Regions from separate parts of the Homo sapiens genome. Here region 1 is linked to region 2. The links come from fine-mapping of genetic effects on gene expression. Tissue or cell type: whole blood. Region 2 holds a variant in brackets; the other region holds the start of a gene. All regions are shown on one strand. Distances are between the middles of the regions. Region 1 holds the start of ST6GAL1 (ST6 beta-galactoside alpha-2,6-sialyltransferase 1). Region 2 has its middle 27 kb from the start of ST6GAL1.

Evidence for each region.
Region 1: ST6GAL1 starts here. The variant in region 2 is fine-mapped to the expression of ST6GAL1 in whole blood (INTERVAL, PIP above 0.99).

The regions. Positions count from the first base shown.
Region 1 is chr3:186,921,516-186,937,915 of GRCh38, forward strand. ST6GAL1 (ST6 beta-galactoside alpha-2,6-sialyltransferase 1) reads left to right here and starts at 9,011. Exons shown (of 8, transcript NM_173216.2): 1 at 9,011-9,319. It also overlaps the pseudogene RPL29P9. RefSeq lists enhancers at 8,626-9,234, 11,328-11,377, 11,398-11,457 and silencers at 8,922-9,001, 9,242-9,431.
Region 2 is chr3:186,895,595-186,911,994 of GRCh38, forward strand. It overlaps the pseudogene RPS20P14. Among named protein-coding and RNA genes, the nearest start is that of ST6GAL1, 27 kb to the right of the region's middle. RefSeq lists enhancers at 1,294-1,814, 1,815-2,334, 2,335-2,855, 13,339-14,034, 13,797-13,896 and 2 more. The variant C/G (reference allele first, on the strand shown) is at 7,935.

The DNA of each region.
Region 1 (16,400 bases), 26 kb after region 2:
GCAGATTGGATCCAACCCTTTGAATATAATCATATATATGGTTAATACAAGTGCCTGTGCTTACATTCCCCCAGACAGTCACAGACACACACAAATCTTCCACCTCAGTGGGCCTGAGCTGGAGTCCCTGCCTCCTGGATGAAGTTCTGGGGCCTCCACGTCATGGCCTTGTCTGAGCCTGTCTGGTTAGAGAAGTGCAGGCTCTTATTATCATTATAGACTGCCTGCTTGGTAATTGAACTGGACAGCTGAGTGCTTTATGATATCACCAAGTAAGACTGTAATGGATAAGGCTGCACTGTTCAGGGGCTATTTCCTGCACTGAACCATTTCAGTGCTTCCCAAATGCACATGTTATTGTCCGAACACTTAGACCTCAGCAGAGCTGGTTACAGGTTAATCCAAATCACCACCTCCTCCATCAGCTCCTGCCAGGAGGATGCTGAGGCTGTACGCTCAGGGATTTTTTTTTTCCTCTTTTTTCTTTTCCTTCAAGAAACAGAATCAATACACATGTGCACTCAGGTTTCTAATAGCGAGCTGTCAAAGTTTAACCTTGAGCCCTGTACAAAGAGGGACTAGAAAATTAATGTAGTTTCGTAGGGAGGTGTTTAAACTTTAGGCAATAACTTTTTGTTTTCCTGCTTCAGGTTTATTTGTGCAAATAGCACAGAAGGACCCCAGCCCCGTGCAGATGGCAGCCGGCGGGGGCTGGGGGAGGGGGGCGGTTGCACCAGTCCTTCTGTCCTCATGTTGGCAGACAGAGATATCTACTCTGAAGCCTTTGTAGGGGCCTGAGCACCTTTGGGAGCCTGAGCTGGAGTTGAAGCTGGAGCTGCAGCCTGGACCTTGGTTTGGTCCTTGGCCTTGGCCTTTGGCCGGCACAGCCTGAGCCCCTTGGCAACGCGGGCACGAGCACGCTTCCCAAGCTTGGGGTGGGGAATGTAGGCAAGTCGATTGAGCTTGTGGCTGACATCCTTTGGGATCTTGGGCTTAGCCTCCTTGGGCTTCACAAGGGCCCTGATAGCCTCGGCATGTGCACTCATGGCCTCGGCACTGTTGGCCTGCATCTTCTTTAGGCTCTTCTTGTTGTGCTTCTTGGCAAAGCACATGTTCCTCAGGAACTTGGGGTCGACCCCCTTAAGAGATTCGTATCTTTGTGATCAGGCTTTCTTGATACCATTTCTGTGCCATTTTTGGGACTGGTTGTGTGTGGTGTGGTTCTTGGACTTGGCCATGTCTGCACTTTAAGCTGTGGCTCCTGAAGCACCTACAATCGGAAGAGCAGGAAATAGCTTAATGATAAGAAATGTGGCTTTTTCCAAAGGTTATTGCCCAGCTATTTGTGTTTAATTAACTACCGGTGATGATAATCAATGAGACTGTTGCTGAGGCTGTAACCACGCCTCTGCTGTCTAAAGCCCACAGTCCCTTGGCAAAGGGTTCCTCACTCAGGGCAGCACCAGCAGAGAAAGCTCCCTTGGTGAAGGAGCACGAACATGTTCAGGCATGGTTGGTGGCTTTTTCCCTTTGGAGGAATTTCTTTGTGAGAAGCTAGAAAGAGCCTTAGAGGTAACCCAGTGGACTTGTCTGTAAACCCTGCAGCTCATCAGCCTTGCCTGGGAAATTTGTTAACAATTATAGATACCCAGCGTCTGACCCCAGAACCATTATATCCTGGGGAGGAGAATGAGCATTTATACTATAAACAATTTCAGCAGGTGACTCCAAAGTTCAGCCAGGCTTGAAAACAACTTATTTTGTCCAACTGCCCTTGTTCATAAAGTAGTAAACTGAGAACAAGAAAGGGCAAGTGCCTTAGCTGAGGTCTGCAGGCTGGTTGTGAGAGTTTAATGTGGAATGCAGGCCTGCTGTCTCCTAAACTGGTGTGCTGTGTGTTATGTGGCCTCTCTCATAAAATATTGGCTCTCCTTGGGGTGAGATGTAGAAAACACATGTGAGTAAAACACAGTCAGTGATGGGGTAATCCTTTTAACTGAATGTTCAAGTCACCAGGACTCAGCGCTGGCCGTCACTTGCTGTAACTAGTCATATATTTTGGTTAAGAATTCAGCATCACTGGGTGGGTGCCGTGGCTCATGCCTGTAATCCAGCACTTTGGGAGGCTGAGGTGGGCGGATCACCTGAGGTCAGGAGTTCAAGACCAGCCTGGCCCACATGGTGAAACCCTGTCTCTACTAAAATACAAAAATTAGCTGGGTGTGGTGGCGGGTGCCTGTAATCCCAGCTACTCGGGAGGCTGAGGCAAGAGAATTGCTTGAACCTAGGAGGCGGAGGTTGCAGTGAGCCAGGATCGCACCACTGCACTCCAACCTGAGAGACAGAGCGAGACTCCATCTAAAAAAAAAAAAAAAAAAGAAATCAGCTTCACTGGCTGTGTGCCACGGCCCATGCCTGTAATCGCAGTACTTTGGGAGGGTGAAGCGGGCAGATGACTTGAGATCAGAAATTCGAGACCAGCTTGGGCAGCATGTTGAAACCCCGTCTCTACAAAAAACACAAAAAATTAGCTTGTTGTGATACAGGCGCCCGCCACCATGCCTGGCTAATTTTTTGTATTTTTAGTAGAGACAAGGTTTCACTATGTTGGCCAGGCTGGTCTCGAACTCTTGACCTCAGGATCCACCAGCCTCTGCCTCCCCACGTGCTGAGATTACAGGCGTGACCAAAAACAACCTTAATTTCCAGCTGTAGGAGAATGGTTGAATAATTTACGACGCATTCACATATTGTTAATAGCTACCGCTTATTCTGTGCTTACTGTGCCAGGTATTGCTTTAAGCACTTTTCTTGTTATTAATTAATTTATTTTTTTTGAGACAGAGTCTCTCTCTGTTGACCAGGCTAGAGTGCAATGGCGTGATCTCAGCTCACTGTAACCTCCACCTCCCAGGTTCAAGCAATTCTCCCTGCCTCAGCCTCCTGAGTAGCTGGGATTATAGGTGCCCACCACCATGCCTGGCTAATTTTTGTACTTTTTAGTAGAGACGGGGTTTCGCCATGTTGGCCAGGCTGGTCTTGAACTCCTGACCTCAGTTGATCCATCTGTCTCAGCCTCCCAAAGTGGTGGGATTACAGGTATGAACCACCATGCCCGGCCCATGTATTAGTTAAAATAACTTTATGGGGCAGATACTATTATCCTTACTTTACAGTTAAGGAAACAGAGCCAGAGAAGTTAAGTAATTTGTCCAAAGTCACCAAGCTAGGAGGTAGAAGAGTCAGGATTCAAACCTGACTTGAGAATCCTCTCAACCACGAAACTGTCTCTTGTATAGCCAACCATTAGTACAATAAACCACTAATAATTTGCTGAAGAATGCTTGCTTTGCATGTAATAAGGGCTAAACTGAATGACTACATTTATTGTTAAATACACATAGGAAATGCTTATGACATATTTAAATGGGGGAGAAAAGCCGGATATCACTGTACATACATTATAATTTTAACTATAGAAAGTTGCAGAAAAATGCCCAGGAAGAAAACAGGCCAAATGGTTCAATTCTGTTTGTGGTTGATGGGCTGACAATTTTTCCTCCTTGCTTCTTTAACTTTGTCTGACTTTTCTGAATTTTCTAAAGCAAATGTTAACTGTAACATCAGAAAAAACACTATTAAAAACATGAGACCTTACGGACGCAGGCTCGGGACAGATCACCACCAGGCAGCAAACACTGATCCTCCTCCACTCAAAGAAATTAACTGCAAAGAACTTTCATTGACCTGTGTAACCTCTTGCACAAAACATTGACTATCCCTACGATTTATTCTAACTGTCATCCTTAGATCATTAATACATAGGAGGCAATTTCTACTTTGGTTCTGATAGAAGTCTCCCAAGAGAAGCCAATTTCCTGAATCTTTTTGAGAGAATTTATTATAAGCATCTTTGCTTCCTCAGAGTCCCCGAGCTCTTGTATTCCCTGCCATTATCAGTGTATCTGGTCTCCTGGGCATAGCTTATGAGTAGATGTTCAATACATGAAAATCATTATTACGAACTGAGATATTTTGCTAAAACACATGTGATTTGGGAACAGAGTCTTGGTTTCTCCTCGTATCTTCCCAGGGACTTAGGATGGGGTTGGACACAGAAGATAATTGGGTGAAGGGCAGCCTAACTACTCATGTGCCCACATGATACGTATATGTCTATTTCTCTGACCTATCCTGATCTCGCCATGCCCATGTTCTACTCTGAGGTTTCTGGAGCCAGCAAGTCACTTCTTGCTGTACTTGGGGCTGTGGGGCCAGCCATCCTCCCAGTCTTGTGGCTGTGATCCTTTCATGAGACCTGTTTCTAGTTTCCAGCCCCTGCATTCTAGCACTCTTCTTCTCTGCCCCCACTCTGCTTTATCAGCCCATCTGTGCAGGTCTGCCTCACAGCAATCAGCAGGAGCCATCCCTGTGTGCTTAAATTAGAGATGCTGTTATTCTCTCTCTCTCTCTTTTAATAAAGAAAAGGAAGTCATTTCTTATAGTTATGGAGGCTGAGGAGTCCAAGGTCAATGGACTGTATCTGGTGAGAGCTTTCATGCAAGTGGGGAGTCTGCAGAGTTCTATAGTGGCACAGGGCATCACACGGCAAGGGGGCTGAGCATGCTGCTATTTTCTTTCTACTTTTAAACTTGAGTTCTACAGACTTAGTAGACTAGCTGTGAACATATATATATATATATATATATATATATATATATATATATATATATATATATATAAAATCATCCATAAGGCTGGCAGCACTGAAAGCCAACATGGTGGGCACAGGCAAACCACAGTTCTTTTAGGCCCCGAACCTATCCTCATATTAGACAACATGTACTGAAGAGGAGACGTGATATGAAGAGGAGAGCTGTGAGGTTTATTTAAGGAACTTGATGAACATCTGTAGTGGGTGGGGAAGAAAGATTTGGGAGGAAATTTTCAACTGCTTATTGTCTTTTTTTTTTCCCCTCATGAAACATCACCTCCAATTCAAGAGTGTTATGAACATATTATTTGCAAGTGGATTGTTGTAAATGAAAATTATGTGTATTAATCCGTAAGATGTCTGAAATGATGACTGAGCAATGCATTACCTAAAAATATTATATATTGGCTAAGGTTGAGGTCAAGGGTTGGGGGAGGGATGGGGAATGTGTTAGTCTGTTTGGGCTGCTATAACAAAAACACCATAAATCGGGTGGCTTGTAAACAACAGGAGTTTATTGCTTATGGTTTTAGAGGCTGGTAAGTCCAACATTAAAATAATGGCAGACTTGGTGTTCAGAGAAGGCTCAGTCTCCTGGTCATAAGTGGTACCTTCTAGCTGCAGCCTCACATGTTGGAAGGGGCTAGCTAGCTCTCTGGAGTCTCTTTTATTTTACTTTTTAATATTTATTTATTTATTTACTTATTTTTGAGAGAGAGTCTTGCTCTGTTTGCCCAGGCTGGAGTGCAGTGGCGTGATCTTGGCTCACTGCAACCTCTGCCTTCCGGGTTCAAGCAATTCTCCTGCCTCAGCCTCCCGAGTACCTGGGACTACAGGTGACTGCCACCACGCCCAACTAATTTTTTGTATTTTTAGTAGAGATGAAGTTTCACCATGTTGACCAGGCTAGTCTCGAACTCCCGACCTCAGGTGATCTGCCCGTCTCAATCTCCCAAAATGCTGGGATTACAGGTGTGAGCCACCATGCCTGGTCCGGGTCTCTTTTATAAGGGCGCTAGTTCCATTTGTGAGGGCTCTGCCCTCATAACCTAATCACCTCCTCCAGATGCCCCACCTCCAAATACCATCATCTTGGGGGTTAGGAATTCATTGTACGAATTTTGGGGGGATACAACATGCAGACCATAGCAGGAAGCTGTGGGTGGAGGGCCCAGAACTGAGATACTGTCCAGAGGGAAAGTGGGTATCTGTACTTCTCAAAAAAACCAAAACCAACCTGTCAAGGCAGGGACCCCAGAGAAAATGGGAGGAGAAGCCTCACATGTATAGACTGGGAGGACAGGATCATCTCCAAAGTAATGCCCCAGCCTCTGCCTCTCACTTATAGGTCAGAGGGTCCTAAGTGATAAGAGAGAACCTTGGTGGAGGCTGCTCCACAATGGCCCCCATCCTGGAATTTTACCAGGAGCACCCTTGCTTGCCCACTCATCTGTCTCAGACGCCCAGGAAATTTTTGCACGTGTCATATCATCTGTGCTTATCTCAGTGTTGAGATAACCTTTTCCCTTGTTTTCTCCTTAATTTGGTTTTCCAGTTCTCTGCAAAAGAGAACTGCGGAGTGGGGACTGGACAACCTCTGAAAGAGCGCCTTCTGCTTTTGTGGAGTGCAGTGGCGTGATCTCGGCTCACTGTAAGCTCCGCCTCCTGGGTTCACACCATTCTCCGGCCTCAGCCTCCTGAGTGGCTGGGACTACAGGCGCCCGTCATCGCGTGCCCGCCTAATTTTGTTTTTGTATTTTTAGTAGAGATGGAGTTTCACCATGTTAGCCAGGATGGTCTTGATCTCCTGACCTGTGATCCGCCCGCCTCGGCCTCCCAAGGTGCTGGGATTACAGGCGTGAGCCACCACGCCCAGCCCCGGTTAATTTGTTTTGTGTTTTTAGTAGAGACAAGGTTCCACTGTGCTAGCCAAGATGGTCTTGGTCTCCTGACCTCATGATCCGCCCGCCTAGGCCTCCCAAAGTGCTGGGATTACAGGCGTGAACCACCGCACCAGGCTGTTCTTAGTTCTTAAGTAATGTTGACATATGGGTGATGATGAAGGAGATGATTAAAGCTTTCAAAGAAAGTGGAAGAATGTGTCAAATTCTCTCTTCACTTCCTAGATGACTTCAGTTTCCTAATCCATAAAATAGGACTAAGACCATTACTTATCTGATGAAAAGGAGAGACAATGTAATAAATAAGGTGCTTTGAATCCTGTATTAGTCCATTGTCACACTACTGAGAAAATTATAAATTACCTGAGACTGGGTAATTTATAAACAAAAGAGGTTTAATTGACTCACAGTTCCATATGGCTGGGGAGGCCTCAGGAAACTTATAATCATGGTGGAAGGTGAAGGGGAAGCAGGGCACATCTTACATGGCGGCAGGTGAGAGAGAGAATGCAGGGGAAATGCCAGACACTTATCAAACAACCAGATCCCGTGAGAGCTCCCTATCACAAAAACATCATGGGGGAAACCGCCCCCCACGATCCAATCACCTCCCAGGAGGTCCCTCCCCTGACACATGTGGATTACAATTCAAGATGAGATTTTTGGGTGGGGACACAGAGCCAAACCATGTCAGATCTCCAAATGGTAGCTATTATTTAGATGTCCTTTTCTTCTGTCTTGTTACAGTCACTGACACAGTTCAGGCTCTTATTATATCTCCATTGATGTCAGCTTCCAATCTAGTCTCTTGCATTCTCTGCTTCTGCCATCTATTTTCCAGTGTGGTGCCAGAGGAATCCTTGTAAAATACAAAGATGCATGTCATGCTACTGCACAGAATCTTTTAATAGCCTCCTTTTTTTTTTTCCCTTTTTCGAATAGGGCCTAAAATCTTCAATGTAGCATCCTTCCAGAAATAGTCTTCTGAACTTGGCTGCTTCTATTCATTCACGCATACATACATTTTACTGTCAGGAGCACCTTCTATATGCCAAACACTAAGCTACGTGTTTCACGTAGGTCATTTCACAGGATCCTGAAAACAACGCTTTCCTTAATATCTCCATTTTGCAGAAGAGGAAAGGGAGGCTCACAGGATGTGGAACTCACCCAAGAAGGCACAGCGAGTTGGTCATAAAGATTTGAATTCACTCTGGCTGGCACTCCCTTCAATTGGAGCTCTTTGTACTGAGCAAAAATGCCTCAGGGGCAGCAGGGAAGGGAATGACAGTATCAGCAGAAGGGAGCCAGGATCAGGACAGGGAGGAAGCAGTGTTTGGAAGAAGGGTGCTGGGGACAGGGTGCGGATGTAACTTCCCTTTCCAAGGTTGGTGATGTGGGGTAGGCACCTCATTTGGAGACAGAACTCTGGGCCTGGGCTTCAGGCACTTTAAGTGTGCACTGGACTTTGTGTTCCCAGAGGACCCCCAAACCTTCCAGTATCTCCTTCCTTTCCCCTTTCCCACCCAGCACACAGCCTGGTGCCTAGTGTGCACTCAGTAGACAACTGGGATATGACTATTGCCTCTGGTAGTCACATCCTCTCTTTGGGCTATGGGAGGCTGGACTGGAGGCCTTAAAGGCCCCTTCCGCCCTCCTGTTGGGCAGTTTTTCTTTCTTAGGGAAATCGCCTTGGGGCTATCGGGGATGGTCAGTACGCAGCTTGGTTAATCCTCTTTCCTTCCCCAGCAGCCCCACCGTCGTCCGGGTGAAAAGAAAGAACCTCGCTCCCTTCACCATCCAGGCTGAGGCTTCAGTCTTTCAGCCTGCAGCTTGGGGTGGAAGCCTCTGGGTGCAGGGGTTCGAGGACGCTCCTCTCCTTCTGTATTTGCCATTTGAGAGCGCCCAGTAGGAGTCATGCCTCAATGTTAGGAGGTTAATGCCAAACGCAGTGAAAGATTTTGTTCTTTCCTATTCTAGATAAGAGCAACACGAGTCTTCGGAGAGGTTAAGCGACTTCCTCAGGGTCTCGCAGTCAGCCGGTAGCAGAGACCGGGTGTACAGCACCCGCATGTTAGGACCAAAAGCCGGACACTGCTGGATTGACCCCTCGCGGCCAAGCGGGGAAGAGGCATTTAGGGGTCCTTGCGCAGCCGCGTGGCCCCTCCCACTCGGCCCTCGATCCACCCTCCTTGAGAGCAGGCAGGATTCTAGCATCACCCAGTGCCTTCATCAAGAGTCTTTAACCCCAAGCCCGCTCGCTAGCGACCTCCAGGCCGGTTTGGGGCGCGGTGTGGCCGGTGGCGAGAGGTGGAGTGGGGGCGGAGACCGACCCAGTCTTCGCAACTCTATTTGCATACGGAGGCGACTCGCTTCCTTCCCGCCCCTCCGCCGCGCTCTTCTTCCTTCCTTCTCCAGTCCCTTCCACTGTGCGTCTTCTGTCCCCCGTTCTTCCCCAGCGGACCCCTCTTTCGAGACTCCCTAGTGGGGTCCCCAGCTCCCGGGCGATCCTGCCCTTGCCGAGCGCGTTTTCTGGAGTCACCTGGGGGAGGGGAGTCCTGGGCAGGGCCGGGCTGGGGAAGACGCCTGGGGCACTGCCCGGCGTTAACAAAGGGAGCCGATACCGACCGGCGTGGGCGCGGAGCGGGCGGCCGCCACCGAGCGTGCTGAGCAACCGCAGCCTCCGCGGCCGAGAGTGCAGCGAGTGAGTAGGGGGTGCGGTGGGCGGCGGCGCGGCCCGGGCTATCCCGGGAGGAGTGTGATGCAAAGGGGCGCGGGAGGATAGCGGAGGCGCGGGGCCCGCGGCGCGCGTAGGGCGCAGGGAATCTCTCTCCAGCTCCGCCTCAGCTGCCTTGGCTCCGGGGCTGGCCGCCTTTTGGTTGGGGGTGTGTGCATTTTTGTCAGGGCCAAAGGGCCACCCTGGCTTCTCTCTGGCTCCGCGAGCCTGCGGATCCACAACAAACCCACGTGCGCACAGCCCCGGGGAACACGGATTTCTCCACGGCACCGTCAGTATGGGGTGGGGTGGCGTGGGGGCATTGCGCCTTGCAGAGTCTGGGTTTACGGATCGACAAATTGAGGCCCGCGGCAGCGGAGGGGGCACAGGCACCATAACAAACGCACGTGCGCCCTGCCCGGAGAGCTGGACGCACTGCATACCCTTAGGGGCCGCCCTGCGGTGCCGGGCCATTGTCTCAGCCTCGGGGGAGGGAGTGGCTCTAGAGGCGCCACTTGCTGGAAGAGGGCGAGAGAGACATTTAAAAGGTACCGCTTGGGCATCAGACTAAACTGCCAGACTTAAAAAGGGAAACCAAAACAAGAAAGCAGCTACAAAAAGGTTACTCCAGGCTGAGTCGGTCCCCGGCCGTGGCGCATTCTTTTGGGTGAAGTGGACCACCCCTCACCTTCACCTCCTGGAGGTCTCTTAGAGATGTGGGTTGGGTTAAGGGTCTAAGGGTGCCCCTCAAAAAAAGAGAGTGCTGGGTGCACTATTGTCCCCGCACTCCGGCGATTGCCTCTGTGGGGATATTTTGGTCGCCTCCTCAGCCTGCGGGAAGAATGTACGAGTCGCCCAGTGCGGTCTTGCTCTTTGCCTCTGAGGCCCGTGTCCGTGTGCCCAGACACCCCAGATGTCACTAGCCCCTTTTGGCTTGTTAATGCATTTTCGCAAGCAAGGCCAGCCGAGACCTCGTATTCTAGCTGGGGACGTACAATTTTCAGTTCTGAGTTTATTTGAAAGAAATTCCGAGGTCCGGAAAAAGAGAACTCTTGTTTGTTTTGCTTTTTCTTTGCTTACATATGCTCAGCTCAGCTTTGCAGATGTTAATCGGACACGATCTGCAGCGGGGAGATGGTTTCGCGGTGAATTGGTCTCTGAGGCGATGGTGTTGGTGCAGGTTGTGGGCGTGCAGTGTGAGCAGGAATGGAGGCGCCGCCGCCCCAGTGTGTGCCTGCTGAGCGGGCGGGCTGCTGCCTCACCTTGGCTAGTGTGGCTGAAGATTAACCTGTCCCCGGGGGGGGAACTGGAGAGCCTCCAATCCTATTCCGCTGTTATTGAAAAGGTCTAGAGAGCATCTAGGGAGCCTTCTCATTTTACAGGCAGGAAGCTGAGGCCGGAGAGTTCAGCCACTTGTCCAAGTTTAAACCGGGTGAAACGGGCCACAGAGAGAACACTTGAGTGTGGGTCTCCCAACTCCCACTGCATCGCTCAGCGGGCAACTAAAGGCAAAACCGGGATTCTGTGATTGGCCTAAAAGGCAGTGGCCTTAGGCAGAATAGGGTGAAACAAAGAGTAATTCAAATAGAAAGCTGCACCCTTCCATTATCCCTTTCAAGAATTCTTTATTCTGTTGAGAAAAAATAGATTTAGTAATTCCTTACTCTCCTTCAAGCCTTTCAAAAGCTTAGTTATTTTTCTCTCCTGGCTGCCCCTTCCCCTCAAATTGGAATAAGGCCAGCTACGGAGACTCAGATGTTTTGCCTCTCATCCTTGTGCCAGGAGGCCTTTGTTTGGGCAAAAGCATGGGCTGTTGACATCAGCCCCACGGGGAAGAAAGTGTGTCTTAGCAAGCTACTCCTGAGCCACTTGTGGGAGAACAAAGCATTGTTTTCACTGATCTTATTAAAGTTACTTTTTTTTTAACGAGAGTCCCATGGAAGTAGCTGCTTATTTTTGTATTTGGCAGAGAAGTAGGAAAACCAAAAAAACACTGAGAAGCCGGATTTCCCCAAAGTTAACATGTTGTTTTGCACTGTGCCTGTTATCTCCTAGTTACACTTGTTTCTTTTCCTTAGAGTTTCCAGCGTGTTTCACTTTCAATGTGATTCTGGTAGCAACAGGAGGCAGCTGGATGCCTAGGCAGATAGGGTCAGGTACCCGGTGAAACCCCCACCTCCAGGCCAAAGACAGTTTAAAGCCTGAAAGCCAAGCTACGAGTTAAATCCTCAGACCAGAGTGAGAACTTGTTTGGCGTGCTTTCCCCTAATTGATTCCTACATTTCGCCTGTTTTACATATACCCACTTTTTCCTAATTGGTTTTCTACGCTGCCGTGCCCACCTTTGAGTGGTGTCTTTGCTTTCATCTTTTTTGCATACTCACAAACCGGTCAGCATGCACTCCCTATTCTGAGTCCATAAAAGGCCCCTGACCCAGCCACATTGGGGAACTTTTCCGTCTTCAGGTAGGGGACCAACCCGGTGTCCCCTCTCTGCTGAAAGCTGTTTTCAACACTCAATAAAATTCTTATCTGCCTTCCTCTCCCTTCAATGTCCAGTGTATCCTCATTATCCTTTGGTGTGGTGCACGAGCTCGGAACCACCGAACGCGGGTACAAGCTATAATACAGTGAGCTGGGACACACCTGCATGGCCGAGCGAGCACAGGTGGGGCATTGCTGGCCCGAGGACCAAGAAGAAAAATCCTACATCAATTCCTCTTGGCACTGCAGTATAGTTTTCTCACCAGGACGCTGACCCTGTAAGGAACTTCAGAAATCATGTGACTGGACCCTTTTACTTTCCAGATGGGAAAAGTGAGGCCTAGAGAAGAGAAATTGCTTGCCTAATGATACACAACAATGCGTGGTCTACTTTTAGTGCACCTTTTTGCGTAAAAGGGAAATGGTTGCATCAAACCAGTAGTTGTTGGTACTCCAGAGAAAAGCCAAAGTTATGGTTGTTATAACAACACCCTTTAAGTCAGAGAACCAATTCCTTATGGATTTAAATAGGTTTGGTTATTAAGCAAAGCCAGGGATCCCAGTAGTAGGTATGCTGAATAGTGCAATTATCTCTGGGGATCAGCTTTCTTTAGTGTTTGCTGAACGGTTCACTTTACTCTTGTGCTGGGTTCCTCCATGTCTCTGTCTTGTGCTTCCCCATTTAGGGGCTGCTTTGTATGAAATCATAAGGCAAGAGGCAGTGAGAAGACAGAAGAGAGAGGCGCCACTTAGCTGTTCATGCTACTTAACCTCTTGGGCTCCAGTTTCCTTCTTTGTACAGTGAGGGTTCTCCTTGCCCAGTCTCTGCACAGGCTGTTCCAGCGGAGCGGAAGATGCTCAGGCCATAGGAGGGGTTTGGGGTCATCTTCCTGTCTCTAGTATTACTTTAAAACCAGCAGGCTGGGCCAGGTGTGGTGGCTCACTCCAGTAATCACAGCACTTCAGGAGGCCGAGGAGGGAAGAGTTCGAATTCCTTGAGCTCAGGAGTTTGAGACCAGCCTGAGCAACATAGTGAGACTACCTCCCCCACCGCCATCTCTACAAAAAATAAAAGAACAAAATTAGCTGGGCATGGTGGCGTACTCCTGTGGTCCCAGCTACCTGGGAGGCTGAGACAGGAGAATCGCTGGAGCCTGGGAGGTGGAGGTTGCAGTGAGCCGCGATCTCACCACTGTACTCCAGCCTGGGGACATAGCGAGACCCTGTCTCAAAAACAGAAAATAAAACAAAACAACAACAACAGAAAACCAGCAGGCTGCCTCTGCGTTGTGTAAAGTGAGGGGAGTAAGGCGTATGAATCTCCTGGGGTTGTTGAGGGCATTAAGTCACATGATGCATTCTTATGACTGGTCAGACCTCTTGGCAGGCTTGAGTGCTTACCAGCTTTTAAAAAATTTTATTTATTTATGTATTTATTTATTTATTTATTTTTTCAGATGGCGTCTCGCTCTGTCACCCAGGCTGGAGTGCAGTGGTGCAATCTCGGCTCACTGCAAGCTCCGCCTCCCGGGTTCACGCCATTCTCCTGCCTCAGCCTCCCGAGTAGCTGGGACTACAGGTGCCCGCCACCACGCCCGGCTAATTTTTGTATGTTTAGTAAAGACGGGGTTTCACCTTGTTAGCCAGGATGGTCTCGATCAAAAATTTTATTTTTTTTAAACTTTTATTTTGGGTTCAGAGGTACATGTGCAGGTTTGTTATACAGGTAAACTTGTGTCACGGGGGTTTGGTGTACAGAGTATTTAGTCACTCAGGTACTAAACCTAGTACCCAGTAATGATTTTCCCTGCTCCGTTTCCTCCTCCCACCCTCCACCCTTCAAGAAGGCCCTGGTGTCTGTCGTTTCCCCTCTTTGTGTCCACGTGTTCTCATTATTTAGCTCCCACTTATAAGTAAGAACATGTGGTATTGATTTTCTGCTCCTGCATTAGTTTGCTAAAGATAATGACCTCCAGCTCCATCCCTGTTCCTGCAGAGGATATGATCTCATTCTTTTTTATGGCTGCATAGTATTCCATAGTATATATATATATGTACCACATTTTCTTTATCTAGGCTACTGTTGATGGGTATTTAGATCTTTGCTGTTGTGAATAGTGCTGCAGTGAACATATGCGCGCATGTGTCTTTATGGTAGAACAATTTATATTCCTTCGGGTATTTACTCAGTAATGGGATTGCTGGGTCAATGGTAGTTCTATTTTTAGTTTTTCGAGCAATCCCCACACTGCTTTCTACAATGGTTGAACTAATTTACACTCCCACCAACAGTGTATCAGCATTGCCTTTTCTTTGCAACCTTGCCAGCATCTGTTACTTTTTGACTTTCTGATAATATCCATTCTGACTGGTGTGAGACCAGCTTTTAAAGTGGTAGGGAATGTTAGTGGGAGAATGACCCCGTAGGGTAAGCTCATGTGCTCAGATTAGAAGACCTCACCTGTCACAAAGAGGTGTAAAGCAAGGCCTGCCAAACTATCAAGGGAGGCTTTGAGCAGTTGTGAAGTTTGTGTGACTCTAAGGTGACTAGAACTAGTAAAAAAAAAAAGAAAAAAACCCAGAACCTTCACACATAAGTGAGTAATATCTCAAGTCATTCTATTTATGTATTCTGTATTTACCGACAAACAGGTGGTGGGAGTGGAGGGGGTCTTGTGCTTAGCCTGGGATTACAAAGAGCATGGAGACCCACCCATTCTTTGTCCGAGGGAAGTCCAGCCTAGCTCCACCACCCTTGCTTAAAACACTTTTGGCTCTCCCTTAGAAATTGCCCTCAGGAGCTCAGAGAAAATTGATCTAATTTGTCTCAGTATTGACCTCTGGGGTCCCCTTCTCTTCATGAATAAAGGGAAGAGCAGGTGGTAAATGACAGAATACAAGAGGGAAGGCTTCAGAGAAAATCTGGCCCTCCATAAATATGAGGACATGGTTGCATTAAAAATATACAGGAATAATTCATTAATGAAATTCACAGTAATTGTTCTGGACCATTAGATTCCTGAGAATTTAGACAGGGAATTAGTTGCTCTGATGTAGTATCAGTGATTTGTTCCATAAGAACTGAATTAGAGGCAAATGAATTTTTTCTTGCTTGTCTGCAGAAAACTATACGATGGCAGTCTGACTCCTATAGATGTATTTTTGATAGGCTTATATGTAACAGTAGCATTGAGCAGTACAGTTTCACCATATTAAAATACTGAGATGATTTTCTAAGTAATTATTACACCAGAAAGGTCAGGTTAGCCTTCAGAATCAATGTAGTGATTTAAATTTTATTTATTCTGATTATAAAAATAAAGCTAGGGGCTGGGCACAGCGGCTCATGCCTGTAATTTCAGCACTTTGGGAGGCTGAAGCAGCTGGATCACCTGAGGTCAGGAGTTCAAGACCAGCCTGGCCAACATCGTGAAACCCCATCTCTACTAAAAACACAAAAATCAGCCGGACATGGTGGGCAGGTGCCTGTAATCTTAGCTACTTTGGAGGCTGAGGCAGGAGAATCGTTTGAACCCTGGAGGCGGAGGTTGCAGTGAGCCAAGATTGTATTACTGTACTCCAGCCTGGGTGACAGAGCAAGACTGTCTCAAAAAAAAAAAAAAAAAAAAAAAGAAAAAGCTTGACCATTGAGGATAATTTGGAAAGTACTGTACAAAAAAACATAGAGAAACAGAAAAAAATTCCGCTATCCAAAGGCAACCCCTCTTAACAGTTGGCAATTTTCCTTCTTCTTTTTTTTTTAAATGGATATATTTTTTGTAAATGGTTGAGAACATACTGTATGTGCAGTTATGTCTCTTGCCTTCTTGCTTAACCTTCCCATATATACATTTCATGGTTAACATTGCATTAAAGCTGTATTCTTTCATTCGTCACCCATATCAGCTGTTCGGCGTCTCCAAGGATGTGTGGGCCCCTGGGATCTGATCATTTCAGTGAGGGCCTATAAAATTTCAGGAGCCTCCAACTGCCTCTGCCTTTCCCACCATTGCCTCAGGTGTTCAGCCATCACCCGTCGGTTCTTTAGAAGTCTACAGGTACTGACAGTACAGTGGGGAGAGAAGAGGCCTGCACATGGCCTTGAGTTCCAGTCTGCCCTTGTGACCTTCAAAAACTTAACTTTAATACCCCAGTCTTCAACGTCTGCATATGTTAAATGAGCAACTCCAAGGTCACTTATTAATTTATTCACCACATATTTGAGTGCCCACTCTAAACCAAAGACAAATAAGAAGAGCTTAGTTTTTTAGAAGCTCATAGTTCAAAGGAGGAGGCAGGGGTAACAAGAGATTAGTGCAGGATGCCGTGCGACCTTGAGGAGGGAGTCACCAATGACTGGAGCAGTGGGAATGGCCTCCTGCATGAGGCCACACTGGACAGCCAACCACATCTAACTTTCTCTTATTGTAATTGACACTGTGATTAAAATATCTGTGAAGAGCCAGGAGTGGTGGCTCACTCCTGTAATCCCAGCACTTTGGGAGGCTGATGCAGGCAGATCACCTGAGATCAGGAGTTCGAGACCAGCCTGGCCAACATGGTGAAACCCTGTCTCTACCAAAAA
Region 2 (16,400 bases):
CTTACCCTCCTAATTATGGATGCCTGGGATTACAATTACAGATAAATAGCATTTCCAAAGACTAAGGTTCTTCCTGCTTCCTTCTCCAAAGCCCTTCTGGCAAAGCTCCCTGAGCCGTAGGTGCTGCAGAGGTGGGTGAGGCAGGCTCGGGGAGCAGGCCTGACCAGAGGCCCAGAGGCGAGAGCAGGACAGAAGTAAGATGCCTTGTCTGTATTCCCCTAGAAGGGAGGGCTTGCCACCCAGCTGCAGGGACTCCAGGGCTCAGCTGCAGGGTCTCCAGGACTCAGTTGATTTGTGCTCTGCCTCAGCTGTAAAGTGGCCCCACACACAGTCATGCCCCCTCCTGGGGCAGCCTGCATCTGGTTGCCGAATGAAGTGGGGACCTAATCTTAGATGCTGACAAGCAATCCTCACTCCCCACCTCTACTAGGGGCTCCTGAGCATTTTGTCAGGCCCGCATCACAGTTCAACTTGTTCCTGGGCCTGATCCTGCTTCTTCCCTTTCCTTTCAGAGGTGCTGATCCTTAATAAGCATATTGTATCCCCAAACTCCTTTTTAATGTCTGCTGGAAAACCCACCCTGTGACAGTGGGTTAGGCGATAGAGAGTAGGCCCAGCTGCAGATATAGAAAGAAGAGGTCTCTCTGGCCAAGTCTAACCCACATCAGCTCTGGGGCCCCGTTTGAGGAAGAGATGTTCTAGCTGGTGGGCAAAGCACAGTGCTGTACACAGAAGGGCCGGTGGTGCTCAGCTCCAGGGGGCCTGTCAAAGGCAATGTGCATCTTAACTGTGATTCTGTTCTGTTCCCCATCATATCCCGATGTAGGCCCTTACCGTATTTCTCCTGAATCATTTTGTAGTCTTCTAATTCTTCTTGTCTTTCACCAGACTGATCTTTCTGAAACCCATATCTGATTATGTCATTCTCTTCCATAAAACCTTTCAAAGACTCCCCTTAAACCTCAGGATCAGGCCCAAATGACTTAACTTGAATTATCATTGCCTTGAGATCTGGCCTTGGTTTGCTGTAAGCTTATCTCTTGCAGCTCTGGACTCAGTCAGCCCCTTTCCCATTTCTCACCATTGCCACTTAATGGTCTGAGGGGGGCTTTTCCTGTTACTGCACGCACCAGAGCCAACAGCTGAAAACAGTAGGCAACAGTACTCTCCCTACTAAAGAGCGCTGCCAACTTAGGCACAACCACCTTCCTGGGGCTTTTTAAGAGTTAGCAGAGCAGCCCTGATGCCCTACCAACCACCACAAACACCCCCCACCACATCCCAAGTCTGGGGAGAATGGAGGCTGGTAGAGTGATGGAGATGGCAAAGGCAGACAGCAGAGTATCCTGAGGACATGGTCTGCCGCATTTCACACTGGAGGGCTGTGCTCTGGGCCAGGCCACTCAGCAGAGGGGCAGACTATTGGGTTGGGAGCAGTGGAGGCGGGAAGATAGCAGAGGTGTGCAATGCCTAACCTTGTTTTTTACTCTAGCTCGCTACTTTAAATTTTCCCTTTTTTTGTCTCCTTAATTCCCAGCCATGTTTCCCATATGAATAGACTCTCCCTGGCTGGGAAAGCCGGATAAACTCCATTTGACCTTTTGATTTACAAGACATTAAGTGCTCCATACCCAACCCCCTTCCTCAAGGAGTTAACCTGTGTAAGCAGATCCTCAGCATTTCATAGGAGCCCAGTTAACTGATAAGGTACTGGAACAAACCATGTATGAAGTTCCCAGGATTTTTCTCAAAGAGATAACAACATAAAGCCTTGAGTTCGTGTCCGGCATAGCATCTATATCTAACTCTAATGAAGGATTTAGAGCCCTGCACCTGGTACCGTTGCTTTTTGTAATCATTTGTCTTTTAAATTGTTTATCTCTCTGTAACCATTTGCTTCTTTTGATTCTTGCATGTTTTTACTTCTGTAGAATTATTGCATTTGAGTTCCCTCCCTTTCCTAAACCAAGGTATAAAAGTTAATCAAGCCCCTTCCTCGGGGCCAAGAGAATTTTGAGCATTAGCCGTCTCTTTGGCCGCCAGCTTAAATAAAGGACTCTTAATTCGTCTCAAAGTGTGGCGTTTTCTCTAACTCGTTTGGGTGTAACAGGTGGACTTCCCATCTGGGAGCACCCAGAAGTGCTCTCATCTGAGCCCATGGCGGACCCAACACCTAAATGCCTGCTACCCCGAGGGCAAGGAGGCCAGGCTGTGTTAGCCAGAGGGTCACAGAGACCACAGAGAGGATCACGACAATGGCTGGTTAGAGAGTGACATTCACCCCATGCCCTTCTCTCTTGTCCACCCCTCACAGGAAGTGCTGGTTGTCATCAGAATTCCAGCTCCAATCTTGATAAGTGAGTTTGAAGGGTTTTTTTGTTTTTTTTTTTTTGAGACAGAGTCTCTCACTCTGTTGTCCAGGCTGGAGTGCAGTGGCGTGATTTCAGCTCACTGCAACCTCCACCTCCTGGGTTCATGCGATTGTCTTGCCTCAGCCTCCCAAGTAGCTGGGACTACAGGCACGCACCACCACGCCCAGATAATTTTTGTATTTTTACTAGAGACAGGGTTTCACCATGTTGGCCAGGATGGTCTTGATTTCTTGACCTCGTGATCCGCCCGCCTCAGCCTCCCAAAGTGTTGGGATTACAGGCATGAGCCACCATGCCTGGCTGAGTCTGAGATTTTAAACTACCTTTTAATAAACTAGAAAGCGGGATCTGAAAGAGGGTGGCTGAAGACAGTAACTCAAAAAGAAAACGATTTTGTGTTTGTGCCCCATCATTATACTTTAGAATGCTGCCATCTTCCTTACACCCCAGCAGGACCACCTGCTTCTCATATCTACTCCAGAAAAGGGTGGCATGTCAGGCAGGAGCCAGCTACACTGTGTCCCTCCAACTAGGAACTTGGATGGGCTAGGGATGCCAGCATTTCTCCCTTCCCTTCGATCTCAGCAGTAACACCAGTTGGCTGAACACTTTCCACTTGCCAGGCAGTGTTTAAATTATTGATGTGTGGCCGGGAGCGGTGGCTCACACCTGTAATCCCAGCACCTGGGGAGGCCAAGGCAGGCAGATCACCTGTGGTCGAGTTTGAGACCAGCCTGGCTAACATAGTGAAACCCTGTCTCTACTAAATATATATAATATATATTATATTTATATGTATTATTTTTGTATATGTATATACTTATGTGTATATATTATATGTGTGTATATATACACACACACAAAATTTAGCTGGGTGTGGTGGCACACGCCTGTTATCCCAGATACCTGGGAGGCTGAGCCATGAGAATTGCTTGAACCAGGGAGGCAAAGGTTGCAGTGAGCTGAGATTGCGCCACTGCACTCCAGCTTGGGCATCAGCTGTCTCAAAATAAAAAAATAAAAAAATAATGAATGTCTGTCCAATTCAAGCTTGTTATTTAAAGAGCAGACCATACCTGCTCCCTGCATGACGTCTCTTACCACCTCTAAAACTGCTGCCAGCCAGGCAGTAATGACACAGTTGGTATCTTTGCAATATTTGCTGATATTGACCCCTCCCTTCTTGAAAATTCTGCCTTATTTGGTTTGTGTGACATCACTCCCTGTGGGGTTTCTCTTCCCACTGAGTACTCTTTTTCAGACCCATAGATTGGTTTCTAGCCAGCTTTCTTGCTATGCCTCCATATTGATATAACCCTGGACTCCATTCTGAGCACTCTTCTCACTTGATTCTCTACCTTAGTAATTGTCTCCTTGACTGGGGCATTAGTTACTGCAGCTATGTGAATTTGATATGTTCAGACAGCCACACTCCAAACCCATAGATCTTTGGCTAATGGTTGGCTCTACCAGAGTGTCCTTCAGGCAACCTAAACTGATCATTTCCAAGGTTGAACATATCATCTCCCATAAAGCCAGTTCTTTTTGACATAACCCAATCAGGAGAATAATTCCTAAGACTGGAACAAGCCTTCTCTCTCTCCCAACCCCACCGATCACTTGCCAAATTCTTTTATTTCTACATTTTTTTTTCTCAGAGATAGGGTCTTGGTCTGTGTCACCCAGGCTGTAGTGCAGTGGTGGTGTCACAGTTCACTGCAGCCTTGAACTCCAAAACTCAAGTGACCCTCTTGCCTCAGCCTCCAGAGTAGCTAGGACTACAGGTGTGTGCCACCAGGCTTGGCTAATTAAGAAAAAAAATCTGTGTGTGGTGATCTGGTGATCTTGCTATGTTGCCCAGGCTATCTCAAACTCCTGGCCTCAAGTGATCCTCCCACCTCAGCCTCTCAAAATGTTGGCATTACAGGTGTGAGCCACCACACCCAGCCATTATTTCTACCTTTTAAACTAGTGAGTCTCAAACTTTGGTCTCTGAATCCTTTTACACTCTTAAAAATCATTGGTATCTCAAAGAGACTCTATGTAAATGAGCCATATTTATAGATATTTACCATACTAGAAGCTAAAATAAAAAATTTAAAAATATTTCTTTAAGAGGAAGACGCGGTCGTAGGTGCGAGGATTTCTGGTCCGCATGCTCCTGCTCCTGACTCACCGCTGTTCGCTCTCGCCGCCGAGGAACAAGTCGGTCATGAAGCCGCGCAGCAGCCATGGCTTTTAAGGATACCGGAAAAGCACCCGTGGAGCCGGAGGTGGCAATTCACCGAATTCGAATCACCCTAACAAGCCGCAGCGTAAAATCCTTGGAAAAGGTGGGTGCTGACTTGATCAGAGGCGCAAAAGCAAAGAATCTCAAAGTGAAAGGAGGAGTTCGAATGCCTTCCAAGACTTTGAGAATCACTACAAGAAAAACTCCTTGTGGTGAAGGTTCTAAGACGTGGGATCGTTTCCAGATGAGAATTCACAAGCGACTCTTTGACTTGCACAGTCCTTCTGAGATTGTTAAGCAGATTACTTCCATCAGTACTGAGCCAGGAGTTGAGGTGGAAGTCACCATTGCAGATGCTTAAGTCAACTATTTTAATAAATTGATTACCAGTTGTTAAAAAATATATATATATATTTATTTAAAATAATAAACCCATCACATATTGACATAACTAATAAGCCCACCACATATTTACAAGAATCACACATTGACACATTAACACTAACATTTCTATTAGAAAACTATTTTCCAAAACAAAAAAAATAAGAAGAGTTGCACTGCTTTACATTTTTGTAAATCTCTTAATGTCGCTTAACAGAAGGAGCTGAATTACAATATCTGCTTCTCTTGCAATATATTCAGTTGCAACCAAAATGCAATGATTTTGTTTGAAGTATACAGAGAAAAATTCATCCTCAAACAGGTAAGTAGATGGAAAAGGTAGGGGAGTTTTAACATCATTTTTAGGTAATTGTAGATACTTCTTTTGTTGCTACACCAAAGCTCAACAAGTGGTAGTTTCTTAAAGGTTAGCTGTAAAGTAGATTCTGAAATCATATCAGTGAATTTTTTGTACTCTGTTATATTAAAATCTACTGGGTTATTTTATACTTTGAATGAATCTTTTACCCCTTAATGCATGACCTTGTGACATTGTGTGCTGGGCTTTGAAAATTTTATTCACTGAGTCATGTATACCTTCCTGACATTGACCCATTTCCCTCTAAATATCAAGTAATCACATTTGATGTTTGCACCACTGTATTGCTTTGTAGGGCTGCCGTAACAGAGTACCACAAATTGTGTAGTTTTTTATAATAACAGAAATCTATTCTGTCACATTTCTGAAGGCTGGAAGTCTGAGATCAAGATGTTGGCAGGGTGGTTTCCTCCTTAAAGGGCTAAAGGAGAATCCTTTCATGCCCCTCTCTGAGTTTCTGGTGGTGGTGTGAAGTCCTTGGTATTTCTTGGCTTGTAGCTGCATTACATCAGTTTCTGCCTCTGTTTTCACAGGCCTACTTCCTTGGGTGTGGCTACATTTCTGTATCCAAATTTATACTCATAACACCAGTTCATTGAATTTGGGGCCTCCTCTAATCCAGTATGACCTCATGGTAACTCAAGTGTATCTGAAAACCCTGTTTGCCAAGGTCACAATCATAGATATAAAAAATTAGGACTTCAACATGTCTTTTTTGGAGCCACAATTCAACCCACAACACCCATTAGTGTCATCAGAAAAATGTTCAAGAATTGGGAACCTGTCAGATTCACAGGGGTGGGTACAAGTCTTCCAAAATTCTAATTTTTACCTGAAAACTTAGTTTTCATCATTGGCAAAAAATACAACTAGTAACAAACACTAAAATAAAAACTAGAAAAATTTGTTATTCTTGAAGTGAGAGGTTCACTTTATTGACTTTTAAGAAAACGTCTCCCAAATATGCAAGTCTGATAACCCTAGTTTATACTAGTAATTTTCTTTCAGGTGAAATCATATTTACCATACTAGAAGTTAAAAGTATGGTAAAACTTTTAATATAAAAGTTTTTTTCATGTTCCATAAAAAAATAAAACGGTTAGTTCAGTTCATAACTTAACTACAAAAGCGCTCTTCCTTGGGACAATCATCATATTTTACTCTGCAACTAAAATGCTTTGTATATCCTTCGTATATCGCATCACACAGAGTATTAAAAGGTTGTGGGCACAGTGGCTCATGCCTGTAATCCCAGCATTTTGAGAGGCTGAGGCAGGCAGATTACTTGAGCCCAGGAGTTTGAGACCAATCTGGGCAACAGAGTGAGACCCTGTCTTTACAAAACAAACAAACAAAAATTAGCTGGGCCTGGTGGTGCATGCCTGTGGTCCCAACTACCAGGAAGGTTGAGGTGGGAGAATTGCTTGAGCCCAGGAAGTCAAAGCTGCAGGGAGCTGAGATCACGCCACTGCATTCCAGCCTGAGCAATCGAGCAAAAACCCTACCTAAAAAAAAAAAAAGGAGGCTGGTGATTCAGGAATGATAGAAAAAAAAGGATATGTACTCAAAGGTAAAGACTTAATAAAAATTAATAATATTTATTGCTTCATAAAGGATATTTAAAAAACTTTTTTTTCCCTGTGAGTTGATGGTGGTGAAGCACGCAAGACTACTAGTGGACTTTAGTGCCTCATTGTACTAAGACACTAACAGTTTTACCCATTATTTCTTTTGCACTATTAGTGCAAATGTCAACACAGTGAAAAACCCAAATATGATCTTACTGTAATTGTGAAAATAGTTGTGACCTCATGGACCCCCTGAAAGTGTCTGTAGACCATATTTTGATAACCACGGTCCTAAAGAACTCTCCACCAACTCTACCTCTGCCTTAGGACTCATGAGTTCTTAGGAAGACTGTTACAGTAATCATCACCATAACCAGTTCTCTCTCTCTCCAAAGCTGTCCCCTTCTATCAGTCTTCCACACAGCCAGAGTGAGCGTTCAGAAAAGTATCAGTGGGACATTCTTCTGCTTAATACCCTTCAGTGAGTTCCCACTGGCTTTAAGGTCTAAACTCCTTAGCATAGGACATATGATGTAAACTCTTCATCTAGCAATGACTTATGTTTTCCACCTGTTCTCCAGCCATATTCTCCACATGTCTTCCAATTCAGCCAGACCAGTTCTCTTAATCTATCATGCTGTTCTCCCTGCCAGGAATATCCTCATCTCCTCACTTTTTATCTGGCTAAATCTTTACTTACTTTTAAAAGTCAGCGTCTGTTATCTCCTCCAGGAAGACACCCTGGATCATCTTCCTGGTTCATCAAAAGGATTAGCAGATTTTCCTTCTCTATATTTCCATGACATCGTGTGCTTAGTTCTATTATAGCATTTTTTTTTTTTTTTTTTGAGACAGAGTCTTGCTCTGTTGCCTGGACGGGAGTGCAGTGGCACGATCTTGGCTCACTGCAAACTCCACCTCCCAGGTTCAAGCAAATCTCCAGCCCCATCCTCCCAAGTAGCTGGGACTACAGGTGCACACTACCATGTCCAGCTATTTTTTTT[C/G]TATTTTTTAAAATTATTATACTTTACGTTCTGGGGTACATGTGCAGAATGTGCAGGTTTGTTACATAGGTATACATGTGCCATGGTGGTTTGCTACACCCATCAACCCATAATCTACGTTAAGTATTTCTCCTAATGCTATCCCTCCTTTACTCCCTGCAACCCCTGGCAGGTCTCAGTATGTGATGTTCCCCTCCCTGTGTCCATGTGTTCTGATTGTTCAGCTACCACTTATGAGTGAGAACATGTGGTGTTTGGTTTTCTGTTCTTGTGTTAGGTTGCTGAGAATGATGGTTTCCAGCTTCATCCATGTCCCTGCAAAGGACAAGAACTCATCCTTTTTTATGGCTGCATAGTATTCCATGGTGTATATGTGCCACATCTTCTTTATCCAGTCGATCATTGATGGGCATTTGGGTTGGTTCCAAATCTTTGCTATTGTGAACAGTGCCACAATAAACATACATGTGCGTATGTCTTCATAGTAGAATTATTTTTAATCCTTTGGGTGTATACTCAGTAATGGGATTGCTGGGTCAATTAGTATTTCTAATTCTAAATCCTTGAGGAACCACCACACTGTCTTCCACAATGGTTGAATTAATTTACACTCCCATCAACAATGTAAAAGCATTCCTATTTCTCCACATCCTCCCCAGCATCTGTTGTTTCCTGACTTTTTAATGATTGCCATTCTAACTGGCATGAGATGGTATCTCACTGTGCTTTTGATTTGCATTTCTCAAATGACCAGTGATGATGAGCTTTTCTTCATATGTTTGTTGGCTGCATAAATGTCTTCTTTTGAGGAGTGTCTGTTCATATCCTTTGCCCACTTTTTGATGGGGTTGTTTTATTCTTGTAAATTTGTTAAAGTTCGTTGTAGATTCTGGATATTAGCCCTTTGTCAGATGGATAGATTGCAAAAATTTTCTCCCATTCTGTAGGTTGCCTGTTCACTCTGATGATAGTTTCTTCTGCTGTGCAGAAGCTGTTTAGTTTAATTAGATCCCATTTGTTAATTTTGGCTTTTGTTGCCATTGCTTTTGGTGTTTTAGTCATGAAGTCTTTGCCCATGCCTATGTCCTGAATGGTATTGCCTAGGTTTTCTTCTAGGGTTTTTATGGTTTTAGGTCTTATGTTTAAGTCTTTAATTCATCTTGACTTAATTTTTGTATAAGGTGTAAGGAAGGGATCCAGTTTCAGTTTTCTGCATGTGGCTAGCCAGTTTTCCCAACACCATTTATGAAATAGGGAATCCTTTCTCCATTGCTTGTTTTTGTCAGGTTTGTCAAAGATCAGATGCTTGTAGATGTGTGGTATTATCTCTGAGGCCTCTGTTCTGTTCCATTAGTCTATATATCTGTTTTGGTATCAGTACCATGCTGTTTTGGTTACTGTAGCCTTGTAGTATAGTTTGAAGTCAGGTAATGTGATGCCTCCAGCTTTGTTCTTTTTGCTTAGGATTGTCTTGGCAATGTGGGCTCTTTTTTAGTTTCATATGAAATTCATACTAGTTTTTTTCCAATTTTTTGAAGAAAGTCAATGGTAGCTTGATGGGGACAGCACTGAATCTATAAATTACTTTGGGCAGTATGGCCTTTTTAACGATATTGATTCTTCTTATCCATGAGCATGGAATGTTCTTCCATTTGTTTGTGTCCTCTCTTATTTCATTGAGCAGTGATTTGTAGTTCTCCTTGAAGAGGTCCTTCACATCCCTTGTAAGTTGGATTCCTAGGTATTTTATTCTTTTTGTAGCAATTGTGAATGGCTCTCTGTTTGTCTGTTATTGGTGTATACGAATGCTTGTGATTTTTGTACATTGATTTTGTATCCTGAGACTTTGCTGAAGTTGCTTATCAGCTTAAGGAGATATTGGGCTGAGATAATGGGGTTTTCTAAATATACAATCATGTCATCTGCAAACAGAGACAATTTGACTTCTTCATTTCCTAATTGAATACACTTTATTTCTTTCTCTTGTCCAATTGCCCTGGCCAGAACTTCCAATATTATGTTGAATAGGAGTGGTAAGAGAGGGCATGCTTGTCTTGTGCCGGTTTTCAAAGGGAATGCTTCCAGTTTTTCCCCATTCAGTATGATATTGGCTGTGGGTTTGTCATAAATAGCTCTTATTATTTTGAAATACGTTCCATCAATACCAAGTTTATTGAGAGTTTTTAGCCTGAAAGGCTATTGTATTTTATCGAAGGCCTTTTCTGCATCTATTGAGATAATCATGTGGTTTTTGTCATTGGTTCTGTTTATGTGATGGAGTACGTTTATTGATTTGCATATGTTTAAACAGCCTCGCATCCCAGGGATGAAGCCAACTTGATCTTGGTGGATAAGCTTTTTGATGTGCTGTTGGGTTTGGTTTGCCAGTATTTTATTGAGGATTTTCGCATGGATGTTCATCAGGAATATTGGCCTGTAATGTTCTTTTTTTTTGTTGTGTCTCTGCCAAGTTTTGGTATCAGGATGATGCTGGCCTCATAAAATGAGTTAGGGAGGATTCCCTCTTTTTCTATTGTTTGGAATCATTTCAAAAGGAATGGTACCAGCTCCTCGTTGTACCTCTGGTAGAATTCGGCTGTGAATCCGTCTGATTCTGGATTTTTTTTGGTTGGTAGATTATTAATTACTGCCTCAATTTCAGAGCCTGTTATTGGTCTATTCAGGGACTCGACTTCTTCCTGGTTTAGTCTTGAAAGGGTGTATGTGTCCAGGAATTTATCCATTTCTTCTAGATTTTCTAGTTTATTTGCACAGTGGTGTTTATAGTATTCTCTGATGGTAGCTTGTATTTCTGTGGGATCAGTGGTGATATCCCCTTTATCATTTTTTATTGCTTCTGTTTGATTCTTCTCTCTTTTCTTCTTTATTAGTCTGGCTAGCAGTCTATCTGTTTTGTTGATCTTTTCAAAAAACCAGCTTCTGGATTCATTTATTTTTTTGAAGGTGTTTTTGTGTCTTTATCTCCTTCAGTTCTGCTCTGATCTTAGCTATTTCTTGTCTTCTGCTAGCTGTTGAATTTGTTTGCCCTTGCTTCTCTAGTTATTTTAATTGTGATGTTAGGGTGTAAAGTTTAGATCGTTCCTGCTTTCTCTTGTGGGCATTTAGTGCTATAAATTTCCCTTTAAACACTGCTTTAAATGTGTCCCAGAGATTCTGGTATGTTGTGTGTTTGTTCTCATTGGTTTCAAAGTACATCTTTATTTCTGCCTTAATTTCATTATTTACCCAGTAGTCATTCAGGAGCAGGTTGTTCAGTTTCCATGTAGTTGTGTGGTTTTTAGTGAGTTTCTTAATCCTGAGTTTTAATTTGATTGCACTGTGGTCCGAGAGACTGTTACGACTTCCGTTCTTTTGCATTTGCTGAGGAGTGCTTTACTTTCAATTATGTGGTCAATTTTAGAATAAGTGTGATGTGGTGCTGAGAAGAATGTATATTCTGTTTATTTTGGGTGGAGAGTTCTGTAGATATCTATTAGGTCTATTGTTCCAGAGCTGAGTTCAAGTCCTGAATATCCTTGTTAATTTTGTCTCATTGATCTGTCTAATATTGACAGTGGAGTGTTAAAGTCTCCCATTATTATTGTGTGGGAGTCTAAGTTTCTTTGTAGGTCTCTAAGAACTTGCTTTATGAATCTGGGTGCTCCCGTATTGGGTGCATATATATTTAGCGTAGTTAGCCCTTCTTGTTGCATTGATTTCTTTACGATTGTGTAATACCCTTCATTGTCTCTTTTGATCTTTGTTGGTTTAAAGTCTGTTTTATCAGAGACTAGGACTTCAACCCCTGCTTTTTTTTGCTTTCCATTTGCTTGGTAAATATTCTTCCATCCCTTTCTTTTGAGCCTATGTGTGTCTCTGCACATGAGATGGGTCTCCTGAATACAGCACCATTGATGGATCTTGACTCTTTATCCAATTTGCCAGTCTGTGTCTTTTAATCGGGGCATTTAGCCCGTTTACATTTAAGGTTAATATTGTTATGTGTAAATTTAATTCTGTCATTATGGTGCTAGCTGGTTATTTTGCCTGTTAGTTGGTGCAGTTTCTTCATAGTGTCGATGGTCTTTACAATTTGGTATGTTTTTGCAGTGGCTGGTACCGGTTGTTCCTTTCCACATTTAGTGCTTCCTTCAGGAGCTCTTGTAAGGCAGGCCTGGTGGTGACAAAATCTCTCAGCATTTGCTTGTCTGAAAAGGATTTTACTTCTTCACTTATGAAGCTCAGTTTGGCTGGATATGAAATTCTTGGTTGAAAATTCTTCAAGAATGTTGAATATTGGCCCCCATTCTCTTCTGGCTTGTAGGGTTTCTGCTGAGAGATCCGCTGTTAGTCTGATGGTTTTCCCTTTGTGGGTAAGCCGACCTTTCTCTCTGGCTGCCTTAACATTTTTTCCTTCATGTCAACCTTGGTGAATTTGACGATTGTGTGTCTTGGGGTTGCTCTTCTGGAGGAGTATCTTTATGGTGTTCTCTGTATTACCTGAATTTGAATGTTGGCCTGCCTTGCTAGGTTGGGGAAGTTCTCCTGCATAATATCCTGAAGAGTGTGTTCCAACTTGGTTCCATTCTCCCCATCACTTTCAGGTACACCAATGAAACGTAGATTTGGTCTTTTCACATAGTCCCATATTTCTTGGAGGCTTTGTTTGTTTCTTTTCATTCTTTGAAAATACTATAGTATTAAATAATGATAATTATAACAAATCTTGTCTTCTCACTTTATTTCATTAAGTTCATCTTCAATCTGTGATATCCTTTCTTCTGCTTGATTGATTAGGCTATTGATACTTGTGTATGCTTCACGAAGTTCTGGTGCTGTGTTTTTTAGCTCCATCAGGTCATTTATGTTCTTCTATAAACTAGTTATTCTAGTTAGCAATTCATCTAACCTTTTTTCAAGGTTCTTAGCTTCCTTGCATTGGATTAGAACATGCTCCTTTAACTCGGAGGAATTTGTTATTACCCATCTTCTAAAGCCTACTTCTGTCAATTCGTCAAACCCATTCTCCGTCCAGATTTGTTCCCTTGCTGGCAAAGAGTTGTGATCCTTTGGAGGAGAATAGGCATTCTGGTTTTTGGAATTTTCAGCCTTTTTGTGCTGGTTTATCCCCATCTTCATGGATTTATCTACCTTTGGTCTTGGATGTTGGTGACCTTCGGATGGGGTTTTTGTGTGGACATCCTCTTTGTTGATGTTGATGCTATTCTTTTCTGTTTGTTAGTTTTCCTCCTAACAGTCAGGCCCCTCTGCTGCAGGTCTGCTGGAGTTTGCTGGAGGTCCACACCAGACCCTGTTTGCCTGGATATCACCAGCAGAGGCTGCAGAACAGCAGATTGCTGCCTGTTTCTTCCTCTGGAAGCTTTGTCCCAGAGGGACACCTGCCAGATGCCAGCCAGAGCTCTCCTGTATGAGGTGTCTGTCGGCCCCTACTGGGAGGTGTCTTCCAGTCAGGATACACAGGGGTCAGGGACCCACTTGAGGAGGCAGTATGACCCTTATCAGAGCTCGAACGCTGTGCTGGGAGGTCCACTGCTCTCTTCAGAGCCATCAGGCAGGGACGTTTGAGTCTGCTGAAGCTGCACCCACAGCTGCCCTTTCCCTCAGGTGCTCTGTCCCAGGGAGATGGGGGTTTTATCTGTAAGTCCCTGACTGGGGCTGCTGCCTTTTTTTCAGAGATGTGCTGCCCAGAGAGGAGGAATCTAGAGAGGCAGTCTGGCTACAGTGGCCCTGCTGAGCTGCGGTGGGCTCCACCCAGTTTGAACTTCCTGGCGGTTTTGTTTACACTGTGAGGGTAAAACCACCTACCCAAGCCTCAGCAATGGCGGATGCTCCTCCCCCGACGAAGCTTGAATGTCCCAGGTCAACTTCAGACTGCTGCGCTGGCAGCGAGAATCTCAAGCCAGTGGATCTTAGCTTGCTGGGCTCCGTGGGGGTGGGACCCTCTGAGCTAGAACACTTGGTTCCCAGGCTTCAGCCCCCTTTCCAGGGGAGTGAACGGTTCTGTCTCGCTGGCATTCCAGGTGCCTCTGGGGTATGAAAAAACAACTCCTGTAGCTAGCTCAATGTCTGCCCAAACGGCCACCCGGTTTTGTGCTTGAAATCCAGGGCCCTGGTGGCATGGGCAACTGGAGGGAATCTCCTGGTCTGCAGGTTGCAAAGACCATGTGAAAAGCACAGTATCTGGGCCAGAGTGCTCTGTTGGCCACGGCACAGTCCCTCACGGCTTCCCTTGGCTAGGGGAGGCAAATCCCCCGACCGCTTGTGCTTCCTGTGCTTCCTGGGTGAGGCTACACCCCACCCTGCTTTGGCTCGCTCTTCGTGGGCTGCACCCACTATCCAACCAGTCCCTGTGAGATGAACTGGGTACCTCAGTTGGAAATGAAGAAATCTCCTGCCTTCTGCATGATCTCACTGGGAGCTGCAGACCGGAGCTTTTCCTATTCGGCCATCTTGCCAGCACCAATTTTTTTTTCATTTTCAGTAGAGGCGAGGTTTCCCCATGTTGGCCAGGCTGGTCTTGAACTCCTGACCTCAGGTGATCCACCCGCCTCGGCCTCCCGAAGTGCTGGGATTACAGGCATGAGCCATTGCGCCTGGCCTATCATAACATTTTTAATATCATATTATAGTATTAAATAAAGATAATTACCATTATTATAACAGCGAACATCTATGCACTACTTGCTGGACACTGTGTCAAGCACTTTAAATGCATCGTAATTTCTGGCATATTAATTTATTAATCATATTAAGTCTTCAAGTTCCTTAACCTCAGGGTATGGGAGGTAAGAGAGCAGTAAGGTTCATAGTTTTTCTTTTTCTTTCTATTTATTTATTTATTTATTTATTTTTGAGATGGAGTTTCACTCTTGTCTCCCAGGCTGGAGTGCGATGGTGCGATCTCAGCTCACTGCAAACTTCGCCTCCCGGGTTCAAGCAATTCTCCTGCCTCAGCCTCCTGAATAGCTGGGATTACAGGCATGTGCTACCACGCTCAGCTAATTTTGTATTTTTAGTAGAGATGGGGTTTCTCCATGTTGGTCAGGCTGGTCTCGAATTCCTGACCTCAGGTGATCCTCCCGCCCTGACCTCCCAAAGTGCTGGGATTACCAGTGTAAGCCACCGCATCCAGCCTATTTATTTGTTTTTTGAGAGTGAGTCTCATTCTGTAACCAGGCTAGAGTGCAGTGGTGTGATCTCGACTCACTGCAACCTCCACCTCCTGGGCTCAAGCGATTCTCCTGACTCAGCTTCCCAAGTAGCTAGGATTACAGCATGTGCCACCATGCCCAGCTAATTTTTGTATTTTTAGTAGAGACAGGGTTTCACCATGTTGGCCTGGCTGGTCTTGAATTCCTGACCTCAAGTGATCCACCTGTCTCGGCCTCTCAAAGTGTTGGGATTACACGTATGAGCCACCATGCCCGGCCAGGTTCGTAGTTTTTAAAGTTTGGAAGATACGAGTTCCCATCCCAGCTTCAATCTATGCGAATTTAAACAAGTTTCCCATTTCTCTTGCTCAAAAAAATGGTTGTTGGGCTTTTTTTGTTTTTTAACCAAAGTGATAACATGATATCCAGAAAAGTAGAAAGAAGAAAACAATAAATTACCTCCATATCCCACCATTTAGAAATAAAATTAAAATTTGTGAGCATGCTTATAGATATTTCCAAGTGGATTTGTATGTTAGAATGATACATAAATAAATTCAAAACTAATAACCTAGGATTATATTCTATATTCTGTTGTTTAAAAGTGAAAAAAGAGGTCCTGACGCAGTGGCACACACACCTGTAATCCCAGCAGTTTGGGAGGCCGAGACAGGTGGATCAGGAGTTCGAAACCAGCCTGGCCAACATGGCAAAACTCCAACTCTACTAAATTACAAAAATTAGCCAGGCGTGGTGGCATGCTCCCATAATTCCAGCTACTCGGGAGGTTGTGGCAGCAGAAATACTTGAGCCTGGGAGGTGGAGGTGGCAGTGAGCCGAGAATGCACCACTACACTCCAGCCTGGGCGACAGAGCAAGACTCCGTCTCAAAAAAAGAAAAAAAAAAGTGAAAAAAGGATTGCTGAGATTCAGGTAATGTTTCTTTACCATGAGAGATATTGGGATATTGGCTACTCTTTTAAACCCTTTAAGCAGGGCCCCACCCTGGGTCCAGCAGGCTATATATTAACCTACACAGGCAGTTTGATTGGCTTCACACAGTTAATTTAAAGAAATAGAAACTAGGCTGAGCGTGGTGGCTCATGCCTGTAATCCCAGCACTTTGGGAGGCTGAGGTGGGTGTATCACGAAGTCAGGAGATCGAGACCATCCTGGCTAACACGGTGAAACCCCGTCTCTACTAAAAATACAAAAAATTAGCCGTCTAATTTAGTCTCGCTCTGTTGCCCAGGCTGGAGTGCAGTGGTGCGATCTCGGCTCAGTGCAAGCTCTG